Homo sapiens: one gene and its partners. The protein of the gene in region 2 interacts with the protein of the main gene of each other region in a pairwise test. Each region holds a gene or a part of one and is shown on either strand. Other genes may lie near its edges.

Region 1 (7,022 bases), on a different chromosome or scaffold from region 2:
GTTCCCGCCCACCTCAGGTCCCCGAGGCTCCACCCATGTCACCGCCCACCTCAGCTACTTGAGAACCCCCGTCCCTTGGGTCCCGCCCACCGCATCTCCTCGAGGCTCCACCCCTGAGTCCCCGCCGATCTCGTTTTCGAGGCTCCGCCCCTAGGTCCCGCCCACCTCAGCTCTTCGATGCCGGTGAACAGCTTCTGCAATTCCTGCTCGCTCACGTAGGGGCCCTCGCCAGCCCGAGGCCCCATTCCCCAGCCTGCGGGGACCAGGCCGTGTGGCCGCGAGGGTTTGTCGGGACTCCCTGGCGGGCCGGGGCAGCCCTGGGACGTGGCGGCGGGGCCCAGGCTGTTCCAGGAGAGGCCAGCCTCCGGCTTCTGCTTCTCCTCCGGCTCCTGCTTCTCCTCCGGCTCCTGCTTCTCCTCCGGCTCCTGCAGCTCGGCCTCCTGCCGTCGCGGCGTCTCATCCTGCAGCTGCTGCTGGAGGTAGCGCAGCTTCTCCTGGGTGGTAAGGGAGGACGGGGTCACAGCGTCCAGCCGCTTTCCTCCCGCAACCACCTCCACCCCAAAATCCGCTCCAGTACTCCCCGAGATTGGAAGTAGAACGCCTGTGGGGACAGTATGTTGGAAGTCTCACTGGCTGTCATTAGGGAGGGGAGGCACCATTTGAGGCCCAGTTGGACTCCAATTCCCGCTAACCTCCCACAGCCTGCCTCCAGGTATCCACCCGGCCCTCCAAGCCCTCCAGGCGTCAAATACCAGTCCCGGCCACTTGGCAAGAACAACTGAAGCTTTCTCAGCATTTTGTTGGAAAATGAGTGGGCATGTGGACAGGACGGGCCTTCTCACCTGAAGTCCAGCTCGATTCTCTTTCTGGGACCTGAATGTGACTGCAGGGCAAGAGTCCCCCATCTGGGTGTTGGAGCCTCATTTGAATCCCTCTTATCAGCGAGTTCTAAGGATGACTATGTGCACGAAGGTGCAGTGTGGTGGTGGTGTCGGGGCAGGGAGTTCCACCTAAAAGTGTATCTTGAGTCCCTCGTGCATCTGACCTCCTCCCACAAATCCTGGGACTGCCCCCTAGCCCTTACCTCCAGCAGGGCAGAATTCTGCTTCAAGACGTTGGTTTTGATTTCAGCATCTTCCACAGACCGGGTCACCTTCCAGCAGTTCTCCTGGGTCAGACACCAGGGCGAGGGCCCTGCCTTCCCATTCCAGTTCTGCCTCCCAACCCTTAGCCTGTCTGTTTCCATCCAGGCTCCAGGCCTCCTAGCCCCCCAGTACAAGACACACTCACCAGCTCATTTCCTTGGCTAAGGGGATGGCTTCCTCCTTAGCCAGATGTGCCAGAGTGGCACCCCTCCACTTCCTCCCACCTCTCTTCGGTCCACCCATTCCATTTCTCCTCTTTCTTTTCTTTTTTTCTTTTGAGACTGAGTCTCGCTCTGTCGGCCAGGCTGGAGTGCAGTGGCGCAATCTTGGCTCACTGCAACTTCCACCTCGTGGATTCAAGCAATTCTTCTGCCTCAGCCTCCCAAGTAGCTGAGATTACAGGCGCCCGCCACCACACCTGGCTAATTTTTGTATTTTTAGTAGAGATGGGGTTTCACCATGTTGGCCAGGCTGGTCTCAAACTCCTGACCTCAGGTGATCTGCCTGCCTCGGCCTCCCAAAGTGCTGGGATTACAGATGTGAGCCACTGCACCCAGCCTCCTCCCCTCTTTCTCCCACCCTCTTCTTACTCCCATTCCCCTCTCCCCATCCATTCCTGCGTCCCACTGGCTCACCTTGAGTTGAATGCAGTACCCCTCCAACTCTTCTGCCTCTTGCCGCCTTCTCTCCAGATTCTCGCTCAGCACAGAACACTCGCTCTGGAGCATGGAAGGAGGAGAGGTTAGCCAAGGACACGAGGGGACAGCCTGTGGAAAAGAAGATCTGGGCCTGGGAAGGTTCCTTTTCTTTCTGAGCCTCAAGCTCCCCAACTGAGCTATGGGTGCATTCTGCTGGAGGCAGGCTCCAAGAAGGGAACTTGGCCCTGGAGGAAGGGCAGGTGTTGGATATAGGGGGTCCTCACACCTGCAGAGACTGCACGTGCTGGTTAACCCGGTTGGTCTTTTCCTTCAAGCTGGTGATGGAGTCTTTGGCGCGGACCAATCCACTGTTGACCCCACTCTGGGGAAGAATGGGAGACAGGTGAGTTAGTGGGTATGTGGGGGCAAGCCCCAAGCCCAGGAAGAATTCCAGAACTGGGAGGCTGTGTTTACACCTTGATTTTGCCCTGGAATGGCTATGTGACTTGGAGCCAAGGGCTATACCTCTGATTCTTAGCATTCCTGCGCGGCAAACCCAGGGCATAAACGACCTTTCTTCATGGTGGGCTGGGAGAAAAATAGGATCCAGGAGGGAAAGGGGGATGGAGGTGGGGTGCTCAGACATGTGGAGGAAGAAGGATGGACTCAACCAAACACTGAGCTAAATGTCCTTGGGGGCCAGGTGCCGTGGCTCACTCTGGTAATCCCAGCACTTTGGGAGGCCGAGGTGGGTGGATCACTTGAGGTCAGGAGTTCAAGACCAACTTGGCCAACATGGTGAAACCCCAACTCTACTAAAAATACAAAAATTAGCTAGGCGTGGTGGTGCCTTTAATCCCAGCTACTTGGGAGGCTGAGGCAGGAGAATTGCTTGAACCTGGGAAGCAGGGGCTGCAGTGAGCTGAGATTGCACCACCGTACTCCAATCTGGGCGACAGAGCGAGTCTCCGTCTAAAGAAAAAAAAAAGTCCTTGGGGTCCACAGCTTAAAAAGAGAAACTTTGAAAACACATGCCCTTTCTCTCCAGGAACTGGTGAATTACAAAGGAAGCCACTTTTCAGATATGAACACTTGCTATGCACCAAGCACTTGTCTTGTCTTTTATTCTTCACAACTCCGCCTCTTGAGGTTATTTGGCCTATTTTACAAGTGAGACAAATGGGTCTCAGAAATGGGATATCCCTTGTCTTCCCAAGCACTCAGCACATTAGGTGATCTCATCAGAATCTAGATTCAGAACGCTTGTTTTAAACCATGACACCATGTGGCCTCTGGTCATCATTACTTTATATCACATAAAGTGTTGTGCGACTCCTGCCAATCCGTGGTTCAGGAGGGATGCATGTGGTAGGATCCATTCTCCCAGCTTGGACAGTTACAGAAGCCTTAGCCTGGCACATGACTGCCCAACCAGAGACTACATTTCCCAGGTTTCCTTGCAGCTAGGTGTGGCCATGTGACTAAGTTCTGGCCAATGGAATGTGAGTGGAAATAATGTAGTCAATTTATTTTTGGGGGAGGTGTGTGTGTGTGGGGGGTCTCTCATTATTACCCTGGCTGGTGTGGAGCGGTACTATCATAGCTCACCAGCTCCTGGGCTGAAATGATCCTCTTGCCTCAGCCTCCCAAGTTGCTAAGAGTATAGGTGCTTGCTACCATGCCCAGCAAAATTTTAAGATGTTTGGTATAGATGGGTTCTCACTACGTTACCCAAGCTGGCCTCAAACTCCTGGGCTCAAGTGATCCTTTTGTGTCTGCCTGTAAGTGTTGGTCTTACAAGCATGAGCCACTGTGCCCAGCCTCCTTTTTTCTCTCTCTTTTATTTATTTTTTTTTTTAGCCTACATCATTACTTAGACTGTGCAGAATTATAGTCAATTTCTGAGTCATCCCTTATAGGAAAAGAGTGAGAACTTTCCCTTTTTCTCTCATTTCACTGGAATGCACAATTGAGGGCTGTCTTGGACCAGCAGATAGAGGACACAATGAAACAGAAGAAGCCTGAATCCTTGACATGGAGCCACCATACTCCATTCCAACCACCTGTGAAGACTTTCAGGGTGAGACATTACATCTTCTGTGTTATTCAAGCTGTGTTATTTTGTGTTTTTTTGTTACAGTAGTCAAATGTATAACTTCAATATCATTGACATTCTTTTTTTTTTTTTTTTTGACAGAGTCTTGCTCTTTTGTCAGGCTGGAGTGCAGTGGCATGATCTCGGCTCACTGCAACCTCTCACTCCCAGGTTCAAGCCATTCTCCTGCTTCAGCCTCCCGAATAGCTGGGACTACGGGCGTGCACCACCACACCAGGCTAATTTTTTGTATTTTAGTAGAGACAGGGTTTCACCATGTTGGCCAGGATGGTCTTGATCTCCTGACCTCGTGATTCACCCACCTCGGCCTCCCAAAGTGCTGGGATTACAGGCGTAAGCCACCGTGCCCGGCCTATCATTGACATTCTTATTTCACACCTGAAGGAAAAGAGACCCAGAGAGCCCTCTGCCAGCTGTTTATGACCAGTTCCAGCCGATGGAAGGGAAGTGGGCACTGGTCGATGTGTGGAAAAGACAGGCATGATCTCTTCCCCTGTTCCCCCTGCTTAATGGCTGGAAGGCAGTGGCGAGAGCAACTGTCTAGAAATGGCTGAGCAACCAGAACGTAGACACCTGTAACCTGCTGCATTTGAAGAGCAGAGCTACTAAGCTTATCAAGCATTTTATGTGCAAAAAAGCAGTTCTCTTGGTTTCTCTCATGGTTGCTGAACTAATACACAAAAGATAGACAGAATAAGTTTCCTCCCTTGTGAGATGGAGGCAGCAACACATTTCTTGCATGATTGCTCTGGGGAAGAAGTGGAATAAGAAATATTGTATCCAGTTAACAACAGCAAAATGGTGGATTAAATAATTCAGGCCGGGCACAGTGGCTCACACCTGTAATCCCAGCACTTTGGGAGGCCGAGGTGGGTGGATCACTTGAGGTCAGGAGTTCGAGACCAGCCTGACCAACGTGGTGGAGCCCCGTCTCTACTAAAAATACAAAAATTAGCCAGGCGTGGTGGCAGGCAGTTGTAATCCCAGCTACTTGGGAGGCTGACACAGGAGAATCGCTTGAATCCAGGAGGCGGAGGTTGCAGAGAGCCTAGATGGCGCCATTGCACTCCAGCCTGGGCGACAACGAGATTCCATCTCAAAAAAAAAAAAAAAAAAAAAAAGGAATTCAAAAATTCCACCCCTCCATAAAAACAATGAAAAAACTAACAAAAACCATAAGAAGCAGTTTGTTCACAATTCTGGAAATTAACCAAAGGCTTGCAGCAACTCAAAGAGCATTTATTCAAGAAAAGTGACTCTCGATAAAAAACGGCAAGACTTGAGGAATTTTAACTTATCCTAGTCCTATCTCCCACTCCCTAGCTCAGCAGGAACCCTGGAAAATAACAGCCCACATTTCCCACAGGGAGGAAGCAGAATGAAGCTAGAACTCATTCAAAGCCTCATAACCCAAAGAAGAGTCATTCTATGATTGTTAAGTGATGCCTGGGAAGACCCCACACAGAATATTTGTCTTTCCTTTTCAGAACTGGCAAAGCCGTGAAAGCATCTCTGATAGTTGAAGGAAAGATTTGGATGTTTGTCCTCTCCAAATCTCATGTTAAAATGTCATCCCTTGCCAGGCACAGTGGCTCACACCTGTAATCCCAGCACTTTGGGAGGCTGAGGCAGGAGGTTCACTTGAGCTCAGGAGTTTGAGAGCAGCCTGGACAACATGGTGAGACCCCAACTCTACAAAAAAAAAAAAAAAAAAAAAAAAAGTAGCCAGGTGTGGTGGTGTGCACCTGTAGTCCCAGCTCCTCAGGAGGCTGAGGTTGAAGAATCGCTTGAACCTGGGAGGTGGATGTTGCAGTGAGCCGAGATTGCGCCACTGCACTCCAGTCTGGATGACACTGAGATCCTGTCTCAAAAACAACAACAAAAAAATGTAACTCCCAGGCTGAGCGTGGTGGTTCACACCTGTAATCCCAGCACTCTGGGAGGCCAAGGTGGGCAGATCACCTGAGGTCAGGAATTCAAGACTAGCCTGGCCAACATGGCGAAAGCCCGACTCTACTGAAAATACAAAAATTCGCCAGGAATAGTGATGCATGCCTGTAGTCCCAGCTACTTGGGAGGCTGAGGCAGGAGAATCGCTTGAACCCGGGAGGTGGAGGTCGCAGTGAACCGAGATCATGCCACTGCTCTCCAGCCTGGGCAACAGAGCAAAACTCCATCTCAAAAAAAAAAAAAAAAAAAACTTGTGTGGCATCTCCTTGCTCCTGCTCTTGCCAGGTGATATGCTGGCTCCATCACCTTTTGCTATGAGGCCCTCACCAAAAGCTGAGCAGATGTTGGCACCATGTTTATCAGATAGCCTGTGAACCATAAGCCAGTTAAACCTCTTTTATTTATACCCAGCCTTGAGTATTCCTTTATAGCAATGCAAGAATGGACTAACATGGAGTGGGAGAGGGAACATTTGTAAAGAAAAAAAAATTTTACGCTTGTTTTAATGTTGCTACTGCCGAAGGCAATGGATAACAGTTGGGGTAAACAATAAAAAGCAAAAAATCTTAAAAGGAAAATCTGATGGACATATCTGTAGAAGCCTTGAAATGTTCCAACAAATTCCTGGGAATGTAGAAAGCCATTGGCCTGTGTAGGGTTGTGTACATGCTTGGGAAAGTTCTGAGAAGGCCCCAAGCTTTTCACCTCTGGCTGACCTTGAAACCTTGAAACGCTGCACAAGCAGGAAGGGAAGGCTAAGGTAGAGTTGTAAATTGTCTGAGTGTTAAAGGTGTGCCTCATCAGGCACACAGAGTGCCATTTGGCAAAGACTAGAAGATTTTGTTGTTGTTCCAGTTTAAGGAAATGTCTCTCCAATCATTAGCTAACCACTAAAATTAGAGAACAGAGACTTCAGTGGCCAAACATGACAAAGAACACAGATATTACAGAAATAGTTCAGAAAAGTCTGTTTTTTAAAAAGCAACTACAGGCCAGGTGCAGTAGCTCACACCTGTAATTCCAACAATTTGGGAGGATGAGGTGGGAGGACTGCTTGAGCCCAGAAGTTCAAGACCAGCCTGAGCAACATAGTAAAACCTAATCCCTTAAAAAATAGTAATAAAATAGGCCGGGCGTGTTGGCTCATGCCTGTAATCCCAGCACTTTGGGAGG
Region 2 (7,822 bases):
TTCATCTCGATAAGCTCATTCCGGGCTGAGGTGGTGGCGCCAGCGTCGTCAGAGATCTGCTGCTGCAGCGAGGCGCTCTGGAACGGCAGGGGCCGCGTTAGGGCGCTGGGGCTGAGTCCGCGCCCGGGCGCACCCAAGCGTGGTTTTACCTTTTCGTTGAACCAGGCCTCCGCGTCCCTGCGGTTCTGCTCTGCGAGGGCTTCGTACTCAGCTCGCATATTGTTCAGCAGAACCGTGAGGTCTACCCCGGGGGCCGCGTTCATCTCCACGTTCACGTTGCCTCCAGCCGCGCACTGAAGAGCTTTCATTTCCTGAAAGATATTTGTTTAACGGAATTAGGATCTGAATATTTTATTTATTGCACTTTTTGAGTTAGGGTCTCGCTCTGATGCCTAGGCTGAAATGCAGTGGTGCAATTATGACTCACTGCAGCCTCGAAATCCTGGCCTCAAGCGATCCTCCATTCTGGGTCTCCTACAGTGTTGGGATTATAGGCATGAGCCACCGCTTCTGGCCTGAATATTTTTAAAGGAGTCAGATGGACAAGATCTATAGGGTTAGAAACTTTTTGGGAGGTTTGTTTCTTTTGAGAAGAATGAATAGAAGCGTCTCAAACAATCTAAGCCTTATGGAGAAACTGACAGGTTCCTTCTTGAATGTTAATTTAAGACATTATATTTATCATCTGAAATTAGTTTTAAAATTTGGTAGGGAGGCGATTGTGAGAGCCAGCCGGGTGGAGCTTCTACCTCCTCATGATTCTTCTTGAGGTAAGCGAGCTCCTCACTGAGAGTTTCCAGCTGGATCTCCAGGTCCGTTCTGCACAAGGTCAGCTCATCCAGGACTCTTCGCAAACCATTGATGTCCGCCTCCACGCTCTGGTGAAGCGCTAGCTCGTTTTCAAACCTTAGAAAAGTATTTGGAAGTTTCATCATTAGTCATTAGACATGGCACATCACTTTTTAGATCATCATACAACTCAGACTAAGCTTTGAGGTAAAACTACTAAGATAATACTTAAAACTTCAGGCCGGGCGCGGTGGCTCACGCCTGTAATCCCAGCACTTTGGGAGGCAGAGGCGGGCGGATCACGAGGTCAGGAGATCGAGATCACGGTGAAACCCCGTCTCTATTAAAAAATACAAAAAATTAGCCGGGCGCAGTGGTGGGCGCCTGTAGTCCCAGCTACTCGGGAGGCTGAGGCGGGAGAATGGCGTGAACCTAGGAGGCGGAGCTTGCAGTGAGCCGAGATTGCGCCACTGCACTCCAGCCTGGGCGACAGAGCGAGACTCCGTCTCCAAAAAATAAATAAATAAATAAATAAATTAATTAATTAAAAAAACACATTTCAGTTAGGTCATCTATCATGCAATAAATACATTTCATTGAAGCAAGAGAATGGGAATAGCCAAAATTCTTTCTCATATGACTTTGACACTCGTTTTTGTTAGTCCCGAAATTTCCCAAGTAAAATTTGTTGCTCAGCTAGTTACTCATTCTAACAGGCATTTTGTTTAAAACAAATACATGAATAAACAAGAACAAAGGCTTGAGACAACGTCAAATAACTTAGAAGAATAAAGGAGAAAAAATGCTTAGACAACTTTTTTTTCCCATTTATCTTCAGCTCTACTTACTTTAGTCTGAAGTCATCAGCTGTTAGTCTTGCATTATCATTTTGCAGGACAACATGGGCATTACTGGTAGTTGCAGAAATTATCTGACAAATGAAAAGTTAGTTAAGATTGAGGAAATATTTAAGATGCATTTCAAAGTTCCTTGAAATAAAATTACCCATGAAATTATAGTAATATTTCTGGCATCTGTCTCTAATAATCAGACCATTCTTTTGAAGATGGGTAATTTAAGTATGGTCTCTCTCTCTGTCTTTTATTTTGAGACCGAGTCTCGCTCTGTTGCCCAGGCTGGAGTGCAGTGGCACGATCTTGGCTCACTGCAACCTCCACCTCCCAGATTCAAGTGATTCTCCTGCCTCAGCCTCCCAAGTAGCTGGGATTACAGGCATGTGCCACCACGCTCGGCTAACTTTTGTAGTTTTAGTAGAAACAGGGTTTCACCATGTTGGCCAGGCTGGTCTTGAACCCCTAATCTCAAGTGATCCACCTGCCTTGGCCTCCCAAAGTGCTGGGATTACAGGCTGAACCACTGTGCCTGGCTGGGTATGGTCTCTTGTATTTCCCACCCCAAGCATTAAAAAAAGCTCTTTCTATGGGAAAGCCTATAAATATATAACTGGAGACACTGGACAGCTTTTGATATTTTAATATTACCAAAAGCATATACCTAATACTACATGATGGACGTGCCATGTTCAAATATTAGAATTTATTAGAAATTATTTTTAATATTGAAAATGAACTCCTAAAATTTAGAAGCTGAGGGCAAAGCCCTGTTATTGTGATAGCTTATACATTTGTGCATCTGTGAGTGGCTAAACACTCTCAGGAGTGCTAACACTCACGCCATGGCGTTTCTTACCTGGTTCTTAAGTTCGTCAATAATTGGGAAATATCTGCTGTAATCATGATCAAGGCCACGGCAAGAACCAGGTCCAAATTTCTCATACCACCCCTTGATCTTCTGCTCCAAGTCAGCGTTGGCCTCCTCTAGGGCTCGAACATTCTCCAGGTAGGAGGCCAAGCGGTCGTTGAGGTTCTGCATGGTCACCTTCTCATTGCCAGAGAGGAGGCCGTGCTCATTCCCTGTGAAGGCAGCACAGGAAGCACTTCCCCCGCCCAGACCTCCGCCATAGCCTCCTGCAGATGAGCTGCCCCCAAAAGCACAAGAGAAGCCACTTCCAATGCCTGGCACACCGCATGTGTTTCCAGCCCCAAAGCCTGCTCCCCCACTAGAGAGCCTCACAGAGCCAGTGCCCCCGCAAGAGCCAAGTCTCCTGGAGGTAGAAGAAAAGCGCACAGACATGGTGTCCGGAGGCTGGAGCCTTTGTTTCTGCGGTGATGCTCTGATGGTGAACGGCCTACTCAAACAGCTTGGTTTGCCTTTATATACACATTATTAGGGTGTTTCTTGATGAGCTTTGCTCATAGCCAAATGATGTTTGCCAGCTCATTGTGAATTATCCATAATGGGGTGATTTTTTTTTTTTTTTAATGAATGGCTTTACCATACTGTGTCCATTTCTGTAGGTGGATAGTTATTGTGGGGTTATTTGTTATCTCTGGAGTTGGACAGGGTGGAGTATTATCAGGATTATTATAGTGATGCATTTCAAATTTAGTATGAGTAACTCTTCCTGTCTTCCAGGCTTCAGGAATGCATAATACCTATAAGAATAAAAAAGTATGATAGACAGATTTCTCTTTCCCTTGCTCAAATCAGCATTGCATTTTCTTCAGCAATGAAGTATCATAGTATCAGAAGAAGGAGGGGAGGTCCTAAAGGAAAACTGAGGCATTAAAGGGAATCTTCTTTGGAGACAGAAAGTGTTCCTTTGATCCTTATCCTTCCTGAATTACCATTTCATCTGTACTGGTTTTCTGTCTAAGTTCCATTGCTAACCAGGTTAAGTAAAGGAATTGGTCACCTCCTCGGGCCTCAGTTTCCACATCTGTAAAGTGAAGGGTCTAGACTGTGGTCTCTATATTCACTTTCTGTCTGTAGATTGCTCATATTTCTGCATTCCTTCTATTGGCTGTCCATTTCCATAGCACTTTTCTGCATTGCTTCTTGTACTTTTCACCTCTTATTTCTGAATTGTGGTCCCACTATTTTACTGAAATTAACCTCTCAGACATCACTGCACATCTCTAATCATCATTTCTTTTATTTTTTCCCCTATACCCTCTTGGTTACATTCAATACTGACAACCTCAGTCTGATGAGTCTGATCGAGTTTCAGACAGTTGCTTTCTAAGAAATTTTCTACATCTCATGTTGCTCCCCTTTTCTCTTCCACTTATAGCTCCTGTGCCCTACCTTTGTCATTTCTTATAGTTTTGTGCTTGGTATTTACGACTCTCTCTCTTTTTTTTTTTTTTTTGACAGGGTCTCGTTTTGTCACCCAGGCCAGAGTGCAGTGACATGATCACAGCTCACTGCAGCCTCAACCTCCCAGGCTCAAGTGATCCTCCCACCTCAGCCTACCAAATATCTGGGACTACAGGCACACGCCACTATGCCTGGCTAATCTGTGTATTTTTTTGTAGAGTTGGGGTTTGCCATGTTGTCCAGGCTGGTCTTGAATGCCTGGGCTCGACAGATCCTCCCACCTTGGCCTCCCAAAGTGCTGGGATTATAGGCAGGAGCCACCTCACTGTCTTAATGTAAATTTTCCCGCACTGACTTGTCCGTTCTGTTTTACTACTTCCCTCTTTCCCATCTCTTTGCCTTTGTTCATGTTATTCTTTCCACCTGGTTTTCTTCTTCAGACTAAAAATTATAACAAATCATTTGAGATCTTGCATTTGCCAAGAATGATTGACATCACTTTCAATTACCTAGATTGAAAATGAAGTTGGCAAAAATATAAATTTTCATGACTTAATAAATGAGCTTGCGGAAAAAAAGCCAGAAAGATTTGTCAATCAATTTAATACATTATTAAAGTATTATGGTTTATTGTTTTACATAAAATTAGGACACCAAAACATTATTTCTTTGCTGTTTGTAGTTTATGCTGTTATATATGTGTACCCGTTACCTCATTACATGTTATAAATAATAAGACTTTTTAGAAGAAAAAGATTTATATTTTACTATTTCTTTTTTTTTTTTTTTGAGATGGAGTCTCGCTCTGTCGCCCAGGCTGGAGTGCAGTGGTGCCATCTCGGCTCACTGCAACCTCTGCCTCCCGAGTTCAAGTGATTCTCCTGCCTCAGCCTCCCAAGTAGGTGGGATTACAGGTGCCTGCCACCATGCCCGGCTAATTTTTGTATTTTTAGTAAAGACGGGGTTTCACCATGTTGGCCAGGCTGGTCTCAAACTCCTGACCTCAGACCACCCACCTTGGTCTCCCAAAGTGTTGGGATTATAGACTTGAGCCACCGCGCTGGACCTATTTTAATATTTCTAACTGAACTTTTTTTCTGACTTTTCAACAGGAGACCTCACATTTTCATTTTGCACTGGGCCTTGTAAATTATGTAGCCAGCCCGAATTGTTGGGTCTCTCTGAGGAAGCTGAAGAATCTCAGAGAAAATACCTCCAGATAGAATTGTTTGAGTGTTCTCCACAAAAAGGGAGCTCACTGTACAACCACTCTGGAAGGAAACACAGACACTTCACACAAAGCTTTCAAATGTTTAAGGTCTTACTCAAAACGAACATAATTTAAAATATCACGATACATTGAAAAACACTCCAACAAGAAAGACAGAGACTCAAACAAACAAAAAATAGCACTCAGGGGAAACAGAGATAATGAAGAACGTTGAAGAAAACTTTAAAAAAGAAACTACCTATAATTATTACTTTCAGAAGTAACAAAAATACTGTATATTTAAAACATGGATAGAACATCATTAAAATTGAACAGGAAGCACATAAAAGACCTCTTAGAATTAAAAACTAAGTCCCAAAAGAAAACTTCAATAGATGAATTGGAAAATAAATTTAAAAAAAAACTCCCCAAAATTAGAACAAAAAGATGAAAAGATAAATATGTGAGCCTTGAAAGAGCCAGTCTCTCTCTCTCTCTGTTTTTTTTTTTGAGACTGAGTCTTGCTCTGTCACCCAGGCTCGAGTGCACTGGCGCGATCTTGGCTCACTGCAACCTCCACCTCCCAGGTTCAGGTAATTCTCCTGCCTCAGCCTCCCAAGTAGCTGGGATTACAAGCACATGCCACCATGCCTGGCTAATTTTTGTATTTTTAGCAGAGATGGGGTTTCACCATGTTGGCCAGATTGGTCTCGAATGCCTGACCTCAAGAGATCCGCCAGCCTCGGCCTCCCAAAGTGCTGGGATTACAGGTGTGAGCCACCGTGCCTGGCGTAAAGAACCAGCCTCTTAAGATGAGTCCTGAGCAGCTAACTGGGCCTAAATTCAAATTAAAACCAAGCAACCATTTGCTGACTACAGGTCACATATTTACTCTGAGTTCCCAGAAAATGTGCACATCTGCTTAACTTTGGGACTTTCATAGCTTCCAGTTTATGCCACCTGAACCAAACAATAGGCTGTAACCTACATGGATCAATCAGAAGTCTGCATGCCCTGACTAATAAGAGCTAACTAAGCAAACATCAACCAACCAGAACTAAGTAAATTTCAATCCTGCATTTTGCATAAGCAGACCTAAGTGGGAACCTGGGTGGGAACTTTCTCTAAAAGACAAATTCCCTTCCTTTGTTCTCTGGAACACATTTTCATTTTACACCAAAGGCTGTGTCTCACCAGCTTGCTAGCTGTTTGCTGGAATGAAGTCTCTGTCCTTGAATTTCCTTCTCAGAGAACTTGTTTACAGATAAAAGAAAATATTAGAAAATGAGAGACTTGGGCCGGGCGCGGTGGCTCACTCCTGTAATCCCAGCACTTTGGGAGGCCGAGGTGGGCGGATCACGAGGTCAGGAGATCGAGACCATCCTGGCTAACACGGTGAAACCCTGTCTCTACTAAAAATACAAAAATATTAGCCGGCGGTGGTGGCGGGCGCCTGTAGTTCCAGCGGCTGAGGTAGGAGAATGGCGTGAACCCGGGAGGCGGAGCTTGCAGTGAGCCGAGATCGCGCCACTGCACCCCAGCCTGGGCGACAGAGTAACACTCCATCTCAGAAAAAAAAAAAAAAAAAAAAAAAAAAAAAAAAAGAAAAAGAAAATGAGAGACTTGGTCAAAGAAGAACAACATCAAGTAGGTCTTCTGGAAAGAGAGAAGGGAGAAATCATGAAGAAATTATTTTATAAACATATTTTCTGAAATACTACTCAGAACTAAACAACTGAGCTTCTAAATTCAAAGAGACCACCAAGAACCATGAATGATAAATGAAAAACATCCACAGTGAGGCACATCCACAGGATCTTTCAGAGAACCATGGCTGGGGGCGGGGGCGACAAACAAACACTTAAAATGTCAGGAGCAAAACCAACACATATTCAATTTTAGGAAAGCCATCATTCTAGTGAAGAATGCTTTCAAAATACGAACCCAGGCCAGGCGCAGTGGCTCACGCCTGTAATCCCAGCACTCTGGGAGGCCGAGGGAGGTGGATCACTTGAGATCAGGAGTTCAAGACCAGCCTGGCCAACATGGTGAAACCCCGTCTCTACTAAAAATACAAAAATTAGCTGGGCCATGGTGGTATGTGCCTGTAATCCCAGCTATTTGGGAGGCTGAGGCAAGAGAATTGCTCGAACCCATGAGGCGGAGGTTGCAGTGAGCTGTGATCACACCACTGTACTCCAGCCTGGTTGACAGAGCGAGATGCTGTCTCTTAAAAAAAAAAAAAAAGTGAACGCAAAATGATATCCAACCTTTTATTTCTAATCCTTTCCTAAGGTTTGTCACCTCATTTCTAAGTTTTTTTCTAATTGTGACTTATGTAGAGAACCAAAATTCTCTACTTTAACAACCACAAGTGAGGGTGGAATAAAAATCTTTTCCGACATGAAAGGTCTCAAAAAAATTATCTCTTTTGCACATTTTGTCAGGAAGCCACTAGAGAGAAAAACATGAAAAAGGAAAACTTAGGTTCCTGGAAATGGAGTTCCAATGTGAGCGCACTGAGTGAGTGTTCCCACATGACAGCTGGGTAGCAGGCTTAAAAAACAGCCAATGTTGCATAGGAGGACAGGAGATTCTGAAAGTGAGCACTTCAGGGGGATAGATGAAAATGATTTCTTGGTA
Region 3 (7,434 bases), on a different chromosome or scaffold from region 2:
GTCTAGAACTCCTGTACTCTAGATACTCCTGCCTCAGCCTTTCAAACTGCTGGGATCACAGGCAAGAGACACTGTGACTGGCCAGAGTTGGGCATTTCAATAATCCTGGCCAAACTCTCCCAAACCTGCAGCCTCTACTCTTGGCCCATGTGCCCTATCCCCTCAATCTTCAACCAGGAACCAATGACACCACTGCATACCTGTCTGCCACCCTTCTCCTTTCTTACACACACAAACACACACACGCTCTACCGTGGGCCCAGTCTGCCCGATACATACTGGTCTCCGAGATAGAGGCCTGGCCAGACCTCGTCGGCATGGTTACAGGCTGTCTTGCCTGTGTAGAGGAGCCGCTCCAACTCGAAGACATTGAGGAAAGGATGTTGAACGGTTGGCATCTCCTCCAGGGTCCCTCGAGTTCGAACAGGAGACCTTGAGCTACTCCGGGAGAAGCGGGCCATAAAAGTCATAGAAGCCCAAAGCCAGTTACCAGGGCACATCTTAGAGGTGGCAGAAACCGTGGCAGCTGCAGGAGTGGCTGTGGTGATGATGGGTTCAGTTGCCAGGTAGCTGCTGCTGGAAGAGGAAGGGGTGTGAGACACACTTGAGTGAGTCCAGAGCAGCTGCTTCCCTTCCCTGGGCTGGTCCTTCGGGAGAAGATTCTCGAGGGAGAGAAGGTAAGCCTGGCTCTGGCAGGAGCCTTCAGGGGTGGCTTTTTCTTCAAGCTGCAGCAGCTCCTTTTGCTCAGCTCTTTGGCTCTGCCACGAAACGAGGTGGGAGAGTCACATGTCCTTGTTTACGGGGAGAGGGAGCTGCCCAGCTGCTAGGTTTCAGCTTCATCACCCCACCCCCACTGCCAGCACGCATACACACACACACACACACACACACACACGGCACTTGGGTGGTTGTCCCCACTGCTGGGGATCTTGCCAGCTGGAATCTGAGTCTCATCTGCCTGGGGCTATCGGCAGAGAGCCTAGGGAGCTGGGATGGGGTTGGGGGTACCTTTAGACCCATCCAAAGAGAATTAGCAGGGAGACAACAGCAGCTGAGGCCATGACACATGTCAGGCCTGCCATCTCTGTGCCAGAGTTAGACTTTAACCCCTTCGTGACCTGCCACTGCCTCAGAGATAAACCTGCTATGGGAAGGGTGTGGTGGGGGTGGGATGGGGTGAGTGGAGAATAGCAATAAAGAGGAAGAGTAAGTTTGCAAAAAATAAATACTTGCTGAATGCATGAGCTTATGGAAGAAGGCACCAATCTATGTGCACAACAGGCAAACCACCCTCCTTGGATCAGCATTAGGAAATTACTGATCAGATCTCAGCTCTAATGTGAGAATTTCTGAATCTAAGCAGGGTTGGAGTGTTTTGTCTGTGTGTGTCTTGAGGGGAGGGTGACAGAGGTGGATGGTGGGGGAATTGACGCAGGGTTGGAGTGTTTTGTCTGTGTGTGTCTTGAGGGGAGGGGGGACAGGGGTGGGTGGTGGGGGCCTAGAAAGCAGGAAGGAAAGGGAAAAATGAGGGATCCTGCCAGGTCCAGGGGCTCAGAGGCTTAGAATTACCAACCGTATGGCTGTTGGAGTCAAGTGACCCTACAAAACACGAGGTCAATAACGAGGGGCTTAGCAGGTGTGTCTCAGATTACCTGTTGAGCTGCAGAGCTGGGAAGGACCAGCGTTTGAGGCTTGCCCTGGGACCTTCAGGCAGGGAGGCAACAATGGCAAGGCCCCTTCCCCCTCCCTCCCCATCCTCTCACACCTGTGGTCCTGCCTGTTTGAAAGCAGGAGGTCCTGGAGCCTGCAGAATCCCCTTCCACTCCCTTCCTGGCCTCCTGCCAGGGGGACTTCAACTCTATGACCAGCAGTGAGAGGCCATCTTTGTCCCTGCCCATGCTCTGTCCCCATCTCACACCCCTAGACAGGGCCCAGCTCTCCCTTGCTCCAGTGCCAAGAGAAACCAAGCACTTACAAGGCATTAGAAGCAGGGGTTTTAGGACCAGGATTGGTGAGGGAAGATTGGATGTTAGGGAGTTTAGGGAGAGAGAGTTTTCAATGGCTGGGTCCGGAAGGAGCACAGAAATATAGCACTACAGCCATCATCACCACCACCATCACCATCATCACTACCACCATCACCACCATCACTATCACCATCATCTTCTTCTACCTTTGCACCCAGGCCTAAAGACCCCATTACTGTATTGCAATACAACCTTTCCTCTTAGAGAGTCTGCTGTCTACGAGATGATGAATGGGATGGGGGAAGCGTGAAGGAGCCCAGGTCTAAGAAGGATCTCCGTGGGGCTGTTTTTCCCGGGGGATGCAGAAGCCCCTTTCTGTCCAGGGATACAGCCCTGGGCATTCTCCAATCCCATCCGTCGGCTCCAGGGGCCCTGGCCCGCCGCTCCCTCCCTCCGCCTGCGGTCGCCTTTGTAACAGGTCCATGGCTGTCGCCCCAGTCCTCGCCAGCCTGGCAGCCGGGCCCCGCGCGCGGAGGGAGGGCGCCCGGGAGAGAGAGGCTGGCTCGCTGGGCTCGGGTGCCCGCTTCCCGGTCCCCTCCCTCCCCCGTCGCCCCTAGCTGGGCGCCTCTCCCCAGCGTGGAGAGCCAGCTGAAAAGGCGAAGGCCCGCCGCAGCCCCTCTACCTCTTTGCAAGCGCTGCGCTGGGCCTCAGTCCGAAAGGCGGATCGCCGGCGCAGACAGCGCCACGGCCATGACGCTCCTGCTGCTGTCGCCGCCGCTGTTTCTGCCCAAGACAGGTTGACAGATTAGCAGCTATTTTTAAGCCATGACACACACGTCGAAGCAGGGTTCAAATCAGCGTGTGCGCTGGTGACATAAAGGGACTCGGTCTCACATTCGGTGGCCCGAGTCGCCAGGCAGCGTGGGCTCCCCAGCCAACCCCCCACGAGCCCGCGCGCCTTGCAGACCAGACACGGCCCCGCCGAGCCCCAGCAGCACCGCCTGGAATGCATGCGTGTGTTCTCAGAGCTGCACCAATTACAAAGCGTTTTGCCTAAAGATTACATTATAAGTCATCCCAGGCACTGTCTTAAACACACACACTCCTCCCAGACAGAATTAACTAATTACATAGACACGATTCTGTGCACTGGCTTGTACATGCCTCGGTCTCAAGAAACCGTGTCATAAAGAACAATGGTCCGAAGCCCCCATTAGCCTTCATTATATGCCATGTGCTTCATTTAGCTTAAGGCATTTTATACTCCCCACAAGTCTATGAGGGAGACATAATTACTATTGTCCTAATTTTAGGGAGGAGGCGACCTAGGCACAGAGAGGCTAGGTACTCTGCCCTGGTCACACAGCTCGTTACTGGCAGAGCTGAGCTTGTTCAAACAATGCAGCCTGGCTTTGCAGTTTATGTCCTTAACCACTCTCTAAACCAGTGCCTCCCACAAAATGGAGAAGGCACCATGGATTTCCTTCATTCAGGAAGCCATTTCCACCAGCTCAGCTCATAGTGAACTTCACTTTCCCCAGACTCTCAAAACATTCATCTTCATATTTCTTTCTTTCTTTTTTGAGATGCAGTCCCACTCTGTCGCCCAGGCTGGAGTGCAGTGGCGCAATCTTGGCTCATTGTAACCCGCCTCCCAGGTTCAAGCCATTCTCCTGCCTCAGCTTCCCAAGTAGCTGGGATTACAGGCGCCCGCCTCCATGCCTGGCTAATTTTTTGTATATATTTTTTCTTTGTTTGTTTGTTTTTTAGTACAGATGGGGTTTCACCATGTTGACCAGGCTGGTCTTGAACTCCTGACCTCAGGTGATCCACCCACCTTCTCTCAAAGTGCTCAGATTACAGGCATGAGCCACTGTGTCCGGCCATCTTCATATTAATTTCTCATGTGCTGCCTTCTAGTGACATATTCACTTGATCGGCATTTTTATTGTAAGCACCAAGATTGTAAGCACTTTGAAGGCAGGGACTGTGCTACCTTCCCCAGTGCCTACCTTATTGTGTGAGAGGGAAGTGGGGGAGATGATAAATGTTAGCAGATGATGCTGTTGAGAACTAGGCTGGCTTGAACTCTCGCTGTCTACTAGAAGAAAGGCAGAAAGTAGATTGGCTCAGATTGAAGCTGATGGTGTCAGCTATAGCTGAAACCAGGACTGACTCCATTCCCAGCAGTGGTGGCAGATCAGGTTTTGATCTCTGGGTTAGAGAAAGTACTGGCCAATGTGACCAATCCCCAGGTTCCATGACAGGCTGCCATCCAAGTTTAATGTACCGCCTAGCCTTTTTTTTTCTCTAGAGAAACAAAATTCTTTTCACTTTTCCTTGTCCCTTGTGTTACAGCAGTTTAAATATGAAATGAAATCCTTGTCATTTAAAACAAAGAGGCAGGGCATGGTGGCTCACACCTGTAATCCCAGCACTTTGGGAGGCCAGGGTGGGCAGATCACCTGAGGTCAGGAGTTCGAGACCAGCCTGGCCAACATGGTGAAACCCCATCTCTACTAAAAAACAAAAATTAGCCGGGTGTGGTGGCAGGCGCCTGTAGTCCCAGCTACTTGGGAAGCTGAGGTGGGAGAATCACTTGAACATGGAAGGTGGAGGTTGTAATGAGCTGAGATCATGCCACTGCACTCCAGCCTGAGCGACAGAGCGAGGCTCCCTCTCAACAAACAAACAAAAGCGAAAATAAACAATCAAACAAACAACAAAAAACCCCAAGGAATTGACCTGAGAAATTTGAGATTTTAATTTGCGCATCCAAATTAAAATTTGGATTTAATTTGCAAACCTAGTTAAAACATTATCATAAAAGGAATTGTGAAAGAGCACTTACAAGATCAATATCTTTTTTTTGTTTGTTTGTTTGAGACGGAGTTTTGCTCTTTTTGCCCAGGCTGGAGTGCAATGGTGCAATGTCAGCTCACCGCAACCTCCACCTCCCGGGTTCAAGCGATTCTCCTGCCTCAGCCTCTCAAGTAGCTGGGATTACAGGCATGTGCCACCATGCCTGGCTAATTTGGTATTTTTTAGTAGAGACAGGGTTTCTCCATGTTGGCCAAGCTGGTCTCGAACTCCCGACCTCAGGTGAAGATCAATGTCATTTTAAGTGAAAAGTCTTCAAGATTGGTAGGTTGAGAGGATGTTGTAGGTAAAGCTGATCTCAATCTTTGACAAGACCTCTGTTTCAACCCTGCATTACACTTTTTTCAAAAAGCGGGGAAAATACAGTTTAAAGTACACCACAGACAATGTGTACAGCTGTTTATGGGTAATTATAGAAATTACCTGGGGACTGACATATCCGTGAGGATCATTTTCATGAGTCGATCTATAGCCCACTTGATTTCTTTTGTTTTGTTTTGTTTTGTTTTTTTGTTTGTTTTTTTGATTTTTTTTTGAGGCAGGGTCTCAGGCTGGAGTGCAGTGGTAAAATCATAGCTCACTGCAGCCTCAACCTCCTGGGCTTAAACCATCCTCTTTTAAACGATCCTCTTGCCTCAGCCTCCTAAGTAGCTGGGACTATACAGGTGCATGCCACAATGCCTGGCGATTTTTTTTTCTTTTTTTTTTTTTTAAGACAGAGTCTTGCTCTGTCTCCTAGGCTGGAGTGCAGTGGTGTGATCTTGGCTCACTGCAACTGCTGCCTCCCCAGTTCAAGCAATTCTTGTGTGTCGCCTCCTGAGTAGCTGGGATGACAAGTGCATGCCACCACACCTGGCTAATTTTTGTATTTTTTGTAGAGATTAGGTTTCACCATGTTGGCCAGGCTGGTCTCAAGCTCCTGACCTCAGGTGGTCTGCCCGCCTCAGCCTCCCAAAGTGCTGGGATTATAGGCCAGAGCCACCATGCCCTGCCAATCAGCTCATTTTATCTCACCCATATATTAAATTGGTGTCATCATTCTGATTGAATACCTGAGAGAGACTGACATTTGGTCAGATTAGTTAACTCATCCACATCTAGTGTGTGGCAGGACACAGGTTCAAACCCAGGGCTATCTTATTTGAAACTTCAGTGTTTCAAGACTAGGCTGGAGAATCGTTTCCTCTGTAAAGCCTTTTTGGATTCACTCTTTTTTTTTTTCGAGACCAAGTCTTGCTCTGTTGCCCAGGCTGGAGTGCAGTGGCATGATCTCAGCTCACTGCAACCTCTGCCTCCTGGGTTCAAGCAATTCTCCTGCCTCATCCTCCTGAGTAGCTGGAATTATAGGCATGCACCACCATGCCCAGCTAACTTTTTGTATTTTTAGTAGAGACGGGGTTTCACCAAGTTGGCCAGGTTGGTCTCGGGCTCCTGACCTCATGATCTACTTGCCTCAGCCTCCCAAAGTGCTGGGATTATAGGTGTGAGCCACCGTGCCCGGCCTGGATCCACTCTTTTTTTTGTTTGTTTTTTGAGATGAAGTCTTGCTCTGTCACCCAGGCTGGAGTGCAGTGGCTCAGTCTCAGCTCACTGCAACCTCCACCTCTCGGATTCAAGCAGTTCTCCTGCATCAGCCTCCCAAGTAGCTGGGATATAAGAGTGTGCCACCGTGCCTGGCTAAATTTTGTATTTTTAGTAGAGACAGGATTTCGCCATCTTGGCCAAGCTGGTCTCAAACTCCTGACCTCAAGTGATCTGCCTGCCTCGGCCTCCCAAAGTGCTGGGATTACAGGCATGAGCCACTGTGCCCAGCCTGGATCCACTCTTATTTGTCCGTTTCCTTCTTTGTGCTCATATACACTTCCATCAAAGGACCTATGAGCTATATTTGTTTCACTTATTTATACACTTATTTAAATTCATATTGCCCGTACTAGAAGCACGAATGGATACACTATGCTGGGATGAAGAGATTAGAGATGGAAAAATAAGGCTATGGAAAGATAAAGATAGGGCCAGGAACTGCAGCTCGTATGCCTGTAATCCCAACACTTTGGCGGACCGAGGTGGGAGGATTTCATGAAGCCAGGAGTTGGAGACCAGCCTAGGGAACATAGTGAGACCATGACTCTACAAAAAATAAAGAATTAGCTGGCCATGGTGGCAAGCACCTGTAGTCCTAGCTACTCAGGAGGGTGAGGTGGGAAGATCGCTGGAGCCCAGGAGTTTGAGGCTGCCGTGAGTCATGATTGTGCCACTGCACTCCAGCCTGGGTGACTCAAAAAAAAAAAAAAGACAAAAATAGATTTCAAAATAGTTCTGAAAGAAATGATTAAATAAATATACAGACAGGGAGGTGTTCAAAAATAGAATGTGGGAAAAAAGAAAAAACAAGAATGACCATCAAAATATGGCATATGTTAAAGGTCAATTCTAACTGCTACCATTTAATTATGGGCTGGGCTTTACATACATTAGCGAATTCAATCCCATAAATAGATTTAATTAATTCAATTTTACTGTTGAGGAAACAGGTTTAGAGTGCTGGTGGTAAATCCGCTCTGAGGCCAGAGAGCTAATGAGTAGA
Region 4 (6,823 bases), on a different chromosome or scaffold from region 2:
TATTGGTTGGTTTATTAATAACTTTCTACTTATTAATAGGTCTTGGACTTACACTGCTACCAATATCAGGGAAAATGCATTTTTTTTTTTGCCATGACTGAATTATTTCAAAGTAAATGGGTTACTACTGAAAACACAGCTACCACCTGCATGGCTATGACCAAAATAGTAATATTCATATACACAGTTTTGTAGTACTATTTTCAAGTAAACTCTTTTGCAAACACTGACTGCTACATTGAAGTACGTTACATTTTGGGTGAAATTTTTCTAAAAATAAATAAATTTCAAGTGACTCTTATTTGTTTTGATTGCTTGTTTTTAAGTTCATGACATGCTAAGATTCCTTCAGAGGACTTTATTTCCTCTGCTCAGTGCAAATTACCTTATATCTTTCCCAGGTTTTTCGAAGTGATCTTCAATATTCTGGTCTTTCCATTGGCTTCCTAAAATGCAGACCCATAAAATTATCATGAATTATTACAAACTGTAGACACATTACTAGATTTAATGTTCACTGTACACAGTGCCCATGCCTGATTTATTCACCAAATCATTCCCTTGCCACATTCCAAATCATAAATAGCACTGATGATAGGGAAAGACTTCTGTAATTAACTGAAATGTGTTGTCATTCTTACCTACAGAAGCCAGGTTCCTGCAGGTTTCCTGCATCACTTCTCTGTAGAGATTCTTCTGAGAAGAATCTAGCAAAGCCCATTCCTCCTGGGTAAAGTTCACAGCCACATCCTCAAAAGCCACCGAGTCCTAGAACATTCCACACATGTGGATAGAAGGATGGGTGAGACTGACAGCACTGGGAATCTATACTCAATTCATAAGCTGTTTACATGATTTGATAATTTCCAAGCATTTATTCTATGACTTGATTGTCACAACTCTTACTCTGTTCACACATACTCCCTCCCACACAGCAGTACTAATGCTAGAATTGAACTATTCAAAAAGGCAACAGCAAAGTGGAAATACCCATCTCATTAGAGAATCCAGGGAGTAAGATGTGCTGCTAGGTTACCTCTTAATTTCACTTCGTACATTTCTAGTATCTGCCATAATAAAGTCCTACCTGATGTGCATAAGTGAGTTAATAATATCAGTCCTAAGACTACTTATTCTTAAAAATGCCTGCTCACAAAGTTCAATCTTTGTTTGTATTAGTAACTTACATTTTGAAAGGGATTCCACCAACCTAAGTAATAAGAATGACTCACTGCATCTAAATGGTTTATGCAATATAGTTGCCAAAACTTTTTCTGCTAAAGGTCTATTATTTTGTGTCACTGCAGTGGTGCTTAGGGAACCAGACACCAAAACACAGTCTGAACACTAAGTGTTTAATGAGTTTCCCTGGTAGACAATATTTTATATGTGCTGTCACTTGTTAATTGGGGAGTTGAGCCCATTCCATGTGATTACACCAAGAGAGAATAGGCTTATTAAATTTAATTGAGTAGTAAATAAAACCAATAATTGATATTTAACAATTTACTAATACAATTTTTAAATTTCTATTGCACAATGTCAAGGCAGAATGGAATAAGAGGAAATATGGCACATGTTTTTTAAAATGACATTAATGTCACCACTTCCAGATGCTATTCCTGTGAAATCACATAAATTCCCAAATCAGGCTTTTTTAGGCAAGAAAAACTAGTTTTTCATACCTAGTAAAAATGACAAATGTCTAATGATTTTCAGTCATCTAAAAAAAGAGTTATGTCTTGCCTAACATACTTTTAAGATTTTCAACCAAAAATATTCAGGACAGCACAGTATTAGCAGAGAGATGAGCAAGCAGACCAAGGGCTGAGGACACAACACCCTGTAAAGTTTTCACAGGGGGACATCAACCTAAAGACATTTTGGTAATATGCACACTTAGGAAAGATGAAGAGAGGCACAAAGATTTTTTTACAGTAGAGTGTCAGATGGTTTATTCTCCGCTTTCCTCTCATGTAAAATGTTTGTAAACAGAAAAATATTTTGGCCGAGCGCGGTGGCTCACGCCTGTAATCTCAGCGCTTTAGGAGGCCGAGACGGGCGGATCACTTAAGGTCAGGAGTTCGAGACCAACCTAGCCAACATGGCGAAACCCTGTCTCTACCAAAAATACAAAAATTAGCTGGGCGTGGTGGCGGGCGCCTGTAATCCCAACTACTCGGGAGGCTGAGGCAGGAGAATCGCTTGAACCCGGGAGTCAGAGGTTGCAATGAGTGAGACTGCATCATTGCACTCCAGCCTGGCGACAGGGCGAGATTCCGTCTCCAAAAAAAAAAAAAAAAAAAAAAAAAAAGAATATGGTTTGCTTCCTCATTAACCTTATCAAAGCCTCTCATTTACGCCCCTTCTGTGGACCCCAAACCACAAACCATGACTGCGGTACCTGGTTTATGAATCGCCGTTTGCTCAAACACACGGTTTAACGTTTTAACAAAGCCTCGGCTTAATTTTAGGGGAAGAAAGGTGGGACTGGAAGCCCCATGAACCACAGCTCCTCCCATGCTGGAACCCCGCACACCGAGACACCGAGTCGGGGCTCTCCCGCATCACCCTCCCGTGGTCACCACACTACCTGGATAGGGGAGGCGAGGGGTTCCCGACAGGGCTCCGGCCGGCGGAAGTGGCGCCCGCAGGTACAGACAGGATGCAGGGGTTCCGCTGCCCGCCCCGCCCGGCCCGGCCCTGAACAGAAGAGGACTGAGCCCCGGCTACGCCACGGCGACTCGGTCCGCAGGTTCCGGAGCCGATGGCGTGGAGGCCCGAGTCGCGCCACAGCAGGTTTCAACCAGCCCTCTTCTCCACTTCGGGAAGCCAGGCGCAGTCCACTCACCATTCCTCGGCTTCCCGGGTGTCCTGGCGTCAGCTAGGGATGTCCCAATACTCGCAGGTCACAGGGTGGCAGAGGCTGCTGCAGAGCCACCTGGGCCTCCCAGAGCCAAGAACTAGCAGCGGAGACTAACAGGAAGAGCCGGCTCCGGCGAAGGAGAGACAAAGCAACCGCCAGGCAGATCCCGGAAGCCGCCCTCTCCTTTCCGGCGGCGCGCCTGATTGAACGGTCCCCACCCCAGCGCCCCTGATTGGATGGGGCTTCAGGCCCCGCCCCTCAGGCCCTGAGTGACAGGAGATTGCGATCTCACGTGAGGCTGGATGAGGTCAGAATGACCGCTTTTGGCCTAGCGGTTTGTAGGCGGTGCGTCCTTCCTGCGCTGGGATCCGACCATGCAAGAAGGACATTCACATTTAACCTGTATACAAGTTATAGCTATTTGTGCCTTTTATATATATATATATATATAAAATTGGAAGCAATATAATGACAGTTCTGTAACTGCCCAGGGAGTTCACCTTGCCCGCTACCTAGACAGAGCCGATTTCTCAAGACAGGGGAATAGCAATAGAGAAAGAGTAATTCACGCAGTGTCCTCTGTGCGGGAGACCGGAGTTTTTTTATTTTATTTTATTTTTTTGAAACAGAATCTTGCTCTGTCTCCCAGGCTGGAGTGCAGGCTTGGAGTTTTATGATTATTCAAATCAGTCTCCCTGAGCATTTGGGGTAAGAGTATTTAGAACGTTTATTTTGCCAAGGTTGGGGATGCATATGCATGACACAGCCTCAGGATGTCCTTGATGACATGTGCCCAAGGTGGTCAGAGCACAGCTTGGTTTTGTTGGAGAGAAATGCTCGGTGCCGCAAAGTGAAACCAGCACTCAAGCGAAAGTTTTCTCAGCAACGCAATTTACTTCTGCAGAAGCGTGCTGCTCGCATCAATCACGATCGCAAGAGCACACTGAACAGAGGAAAGCAGGGGTTTTTATTCCTAACGCAGTCCCTACCTCTGGCATGGGCTGGGGTCAGACCGCACGATCTAAACTGACCCGGTTGGCTATTTGTGAATATTTTCCCAAATAAGGAAGGGGGAAGGGGGATGTGAGTTACAATGGTGGGACTTGCGGTTTCCAAGGGAGAAATGGGTGCAGAGCAGGTAACCAAGGGAACAGATGTGAGTTATTGATTAGAACTGACGGAAGGTTGTTTACAGTAACTAAGGGCAAGGAGGCATGGAGAACAAGAAAGTTGAGTTCGAAAACAAAAAAACAAGAAAGTTAACATGCCAAACCTTGGAAGAGAAACTGACTGTATCTGACAGCTTTATACATTTTAGGGAAACAGGAGACATCAATCAACATATGTAAGATGAACACTGGTTTGATCCGGGACAACCTGAAGCAAAAGCGGGTCAACTCGAAGCCAGGAGGGGGCTTCCAGGTCACAGGTAGGTGAGAGACAAACGGTTGCATTCTTTTGAGTTTCTGATTAGCCTTTCCAAAGGAGGCAATAAGATATGCATTCATCTCAGTGAGCAGGGGATGACTCTGAATAGAATGGGAGGCAGGTTTGCCCTAAGCAGTTCCCAGATTGACTTTCCCCTTTAGCTTAGTGATCTGGGGGGCTCAAAACATTTTCCTTTCCAATTTCCCCCTTTTCTTTTAAAAATATTTTGGAGAAAGCATTTTAGAAGAAAATCAGTCTCTGGTCCCAGGTTTTGTCCAATCTCTCATGGAGTAGCTGGGATTACAGGCACTGGACACCACGCCTGCCTAATTTTTTTTTTTTTTTTTTCGTAGAAATGGGGTCTCCCTCAGTTGCCCAGGCTGGTCTCTGGTGCCCAACGCCGGGCTCCCGGTAATCTCTACAAATAATCCAGTGAAGGAATGCCAGAGAGTGGAAAGTGGAGGATGACTGACAAAGGACGCCCGAGTACGTTTTCACTTCAAGCTCTACAGGTAAGTAGGGCGCTCGGAAAATTCCAGGGTAACCTCCGGAAACTATGGGTCAGGCTGAGAGTAAGTTTGCTAATTACTGAAGCCTTGTCCGGCAGTTACTGCGCCGCGGAGGGGTAATTGTGAGTACCCAAAATCTCCCATCTTTGTTCTATCTGGTAAAAAAGTATTCTCTTTGGTTCCCGGAATATGGAACCATGAATGTAAAAGACTGGGACAAGGTCGGATCAGACTTAAAACGAGCACAACAAGAGGGCCACGATATTCCCTTCTTGCTTGGTCTGCGTGGCCTGCAATTAAAACAGCACTGGAGCCCTTCCACACTGAGGAGGAGCTTCAGGATGACATAGAAAACTTTAATAATCAGGAGTCTAATGATCAGCAAAATCAACCATCACAGTCTAGTTTTAAAAAGGCCGAGAAACGGGAAGGTATATATGCTAATCTCCAAAAACTTATAAAAGAAACAGTGCCACCTACTTCGCCTTTAGGGGAAGGTCTGGAATGGCCACCCCCGGCTCAGCCTTACAAATTTTTGGAACTGGAGCCTGAGACGCGGCTTGCCGCTCCCATTGTTGCAGGCCCCACCAATAACTATGGCGAAGGGAAGCTTCAGGCTCGCCTAACAGCCAATTACGATCAGGGAATGATCCTCTACCACCTGTTAATTGTGGTAGAGGAATGCTGCGAGCCGGTCCAAATACAAATTATGGCACGGGGACAATCCCGTCATCCATTCGCCAGGCATGAGAAATGGGGGATTTGGATGCTTTGCAGTTTCTGGTAATTAATTCGCCAGTTGAGGAGCCCAGAGAACATGCTCAAGCATGCTGGCAGCCACTTCCTTTTAAAATATTAAAATACTTAAAGCAAGCAATTGGACAATATGGGCCAAATTCTCCTTATGTTCATTCCTTGTTACAATCTGTGGCTTATAACAGGCGTTTAATACCTATGGATTGGGAGGCACTAGCCCAATCCACTCCGTCCCCCTCTGAATTTCTCCAATTTAAAACCTGGTGGACAGATGAAGCAACAAATCGGGCATGCAGAAATGCTCAAGTCCAACGTCCCGTTAATATCACATCTGATCAATTGCTTGGAATCACATGGGGTACTCTAAATCAACAGAATGGTAATGGGTGATGAGGTTGTTGATCAGGTCAGAACTATATGCCTAAGAGCCTGGGAAAAAATTCACAACCCTGGTACAACTTATCCGTGTTTTAACTCAGTTCGACAGGGTCCAAGGGAGCCTTATCCAGATTTTATTGCCCGTTTGTAAGATGCGGCTCAAAAGGCTATTTCAGATTTTCATGCCAGGAAAGTGATCGTTCAGCTGCTTGCTGATGAAAATGCTAATACAGAATGTCAGGCAGCAATTAGACCTATTAAAGGAAAGGCAGATCTAAATGAGGAAAAAGCTTTAAGTGAATACATTAAAGCCTGTGATGGCATTGGGGAGCACTTATATAAGGCCAGCTTCCTTGCTCAGGCAATGGCTGGACTAAGGGTAACAAAAAACACATGAGTGTTCCCCAGGTCTTGCTATAATTGTGGACAGATAGGACATACAAAAAGAGAGTGTACAAAGAGGCAAAAAAGGCAAAACTCAGGACCGGGCCCCAATTCAAAACGGGGCATTCCCAATTCAGGACGGGACATCCCTGACTCCAAATGGAGTGTTCCCAAATGGATTGAGGCAGGTTTCAACCAGCCCTCTTCCCCACTTTGGGAAGCCAGCCGCAGTCCAGGAAGGTCCCAAAAGGAGTTTATGGCCCACTGCCAAATGGCACGGTGGGACTTATACTGGGAAGGTCCAACTTAAAGGGAATTCAAGTACATACAGGAGTAGTGGACTCTGATTGCTACGGAGAAATTCAAATTGTTATCTCCTCCACTGTTCCCTGGAGTGCTAATCCACGTGACAGAATAGCTCAACTGTTGCTTTTGCCGTATGTTAAGTTAGGAGAAAGCTCAGAAAAAAGAATAGGAGGATTTGGAAGCACAAATTCAGCAG

The links.
Region 1: the proteins of KRT27 (region 2) and TSKS interact in binary tests that used the Homo sapiens proteins (3 or more experiments, as listed by UniProt).
Region 3: the proteins of KRT27 (region 2) and DUSP26 interact in binary tests that used the Homo sapiens proteins (3 or more experiments, as listed by UniProt).
Region 4: the proteins of KRT27 (region 2) and ZNF669 interact in binary tests that used the Homo sapiens proteins (3 or more experiments, as listed by UniProt).

Annotation. Positions count from the first base shown.
Region 1 is NC_000019.10:49,746,305-49,753,326, forward strand, and holds part of TSKS (testis-specific serine kinase substrate), read right to left. Parts: intron 3,864-7,022; exon of another isoform or gene 3,758-3,863; intron 2,187-3,757; exon of another isoform or gene 2,166-2,186; coding exon 2,070-2,165; exon of another isoform or gene 1,865-2,069; coding exon 1,781-1,864; intron 1,169-1,780; coding exon 1,085-1,168; intron 495-1,084; coding exon 166-494; intron 1-165. UniProt on the Homo sapiens protein: May play a role in testicular physiology, most probably in the process of spermatogenesis or spermatid development.
Region 2 is NC_000017.11:40,779,551-40,787,372, forward strand, and holds the start of KRT27 (keratin, type I cytoskeletal 27), read right to left. Parts: upstream 3,001-7,822; 5' UTR 2,944-3,000; coding exon 2,500-2,943; intron 1,721-2,499; coding exon 1,638-1,720; intron 907-1,637; coding exon 750-906; intron 312-749; coding exon 150-311; intron 78-149; coding exon 1-77.
Region 3 is NC_000008.11:33,597,016-33,604,449, forward strand, and holds the start of DUSP26 (dual specificity protein phosphatase 26), read right to left. Parts: upstream 3,009-7,434; 5' UTR 2,650-3,008; intron 745-2,649; exon of another isoform or gene 577-744; 5' UTR 501-576; coding exon 280-500; intron 1-279. UniProt on the Homo sapiens protein: Inactivates MAPK1 and MAPK3 which leads to dephosphorylation of heat shock factor protein 4 and a reduction in its DNA-binding activity. Inhibits MAP kinase p38 by dephosphorylating it and inhibits p38-mediated apoptosis in anaplastic thyroid cancer cells.
Region 4 is NC_000001.11:247,101,346-247,108,168, forward strand, and holds the start of ZNF669 (zinc finger protein 669), read right to left. Parts: upstream 3,012-6,823; 5' UTR 2,855-3,011; coding exon 2,852-2,854; coding exon of another isoform or gene 2,594-2,851; intron 769-2,593; coding exon 642-768; intron 447-641; coding exon 386-446; intron 1-385. UniProt on the Homo sapiens protein: May be involved in transcriptional regulation.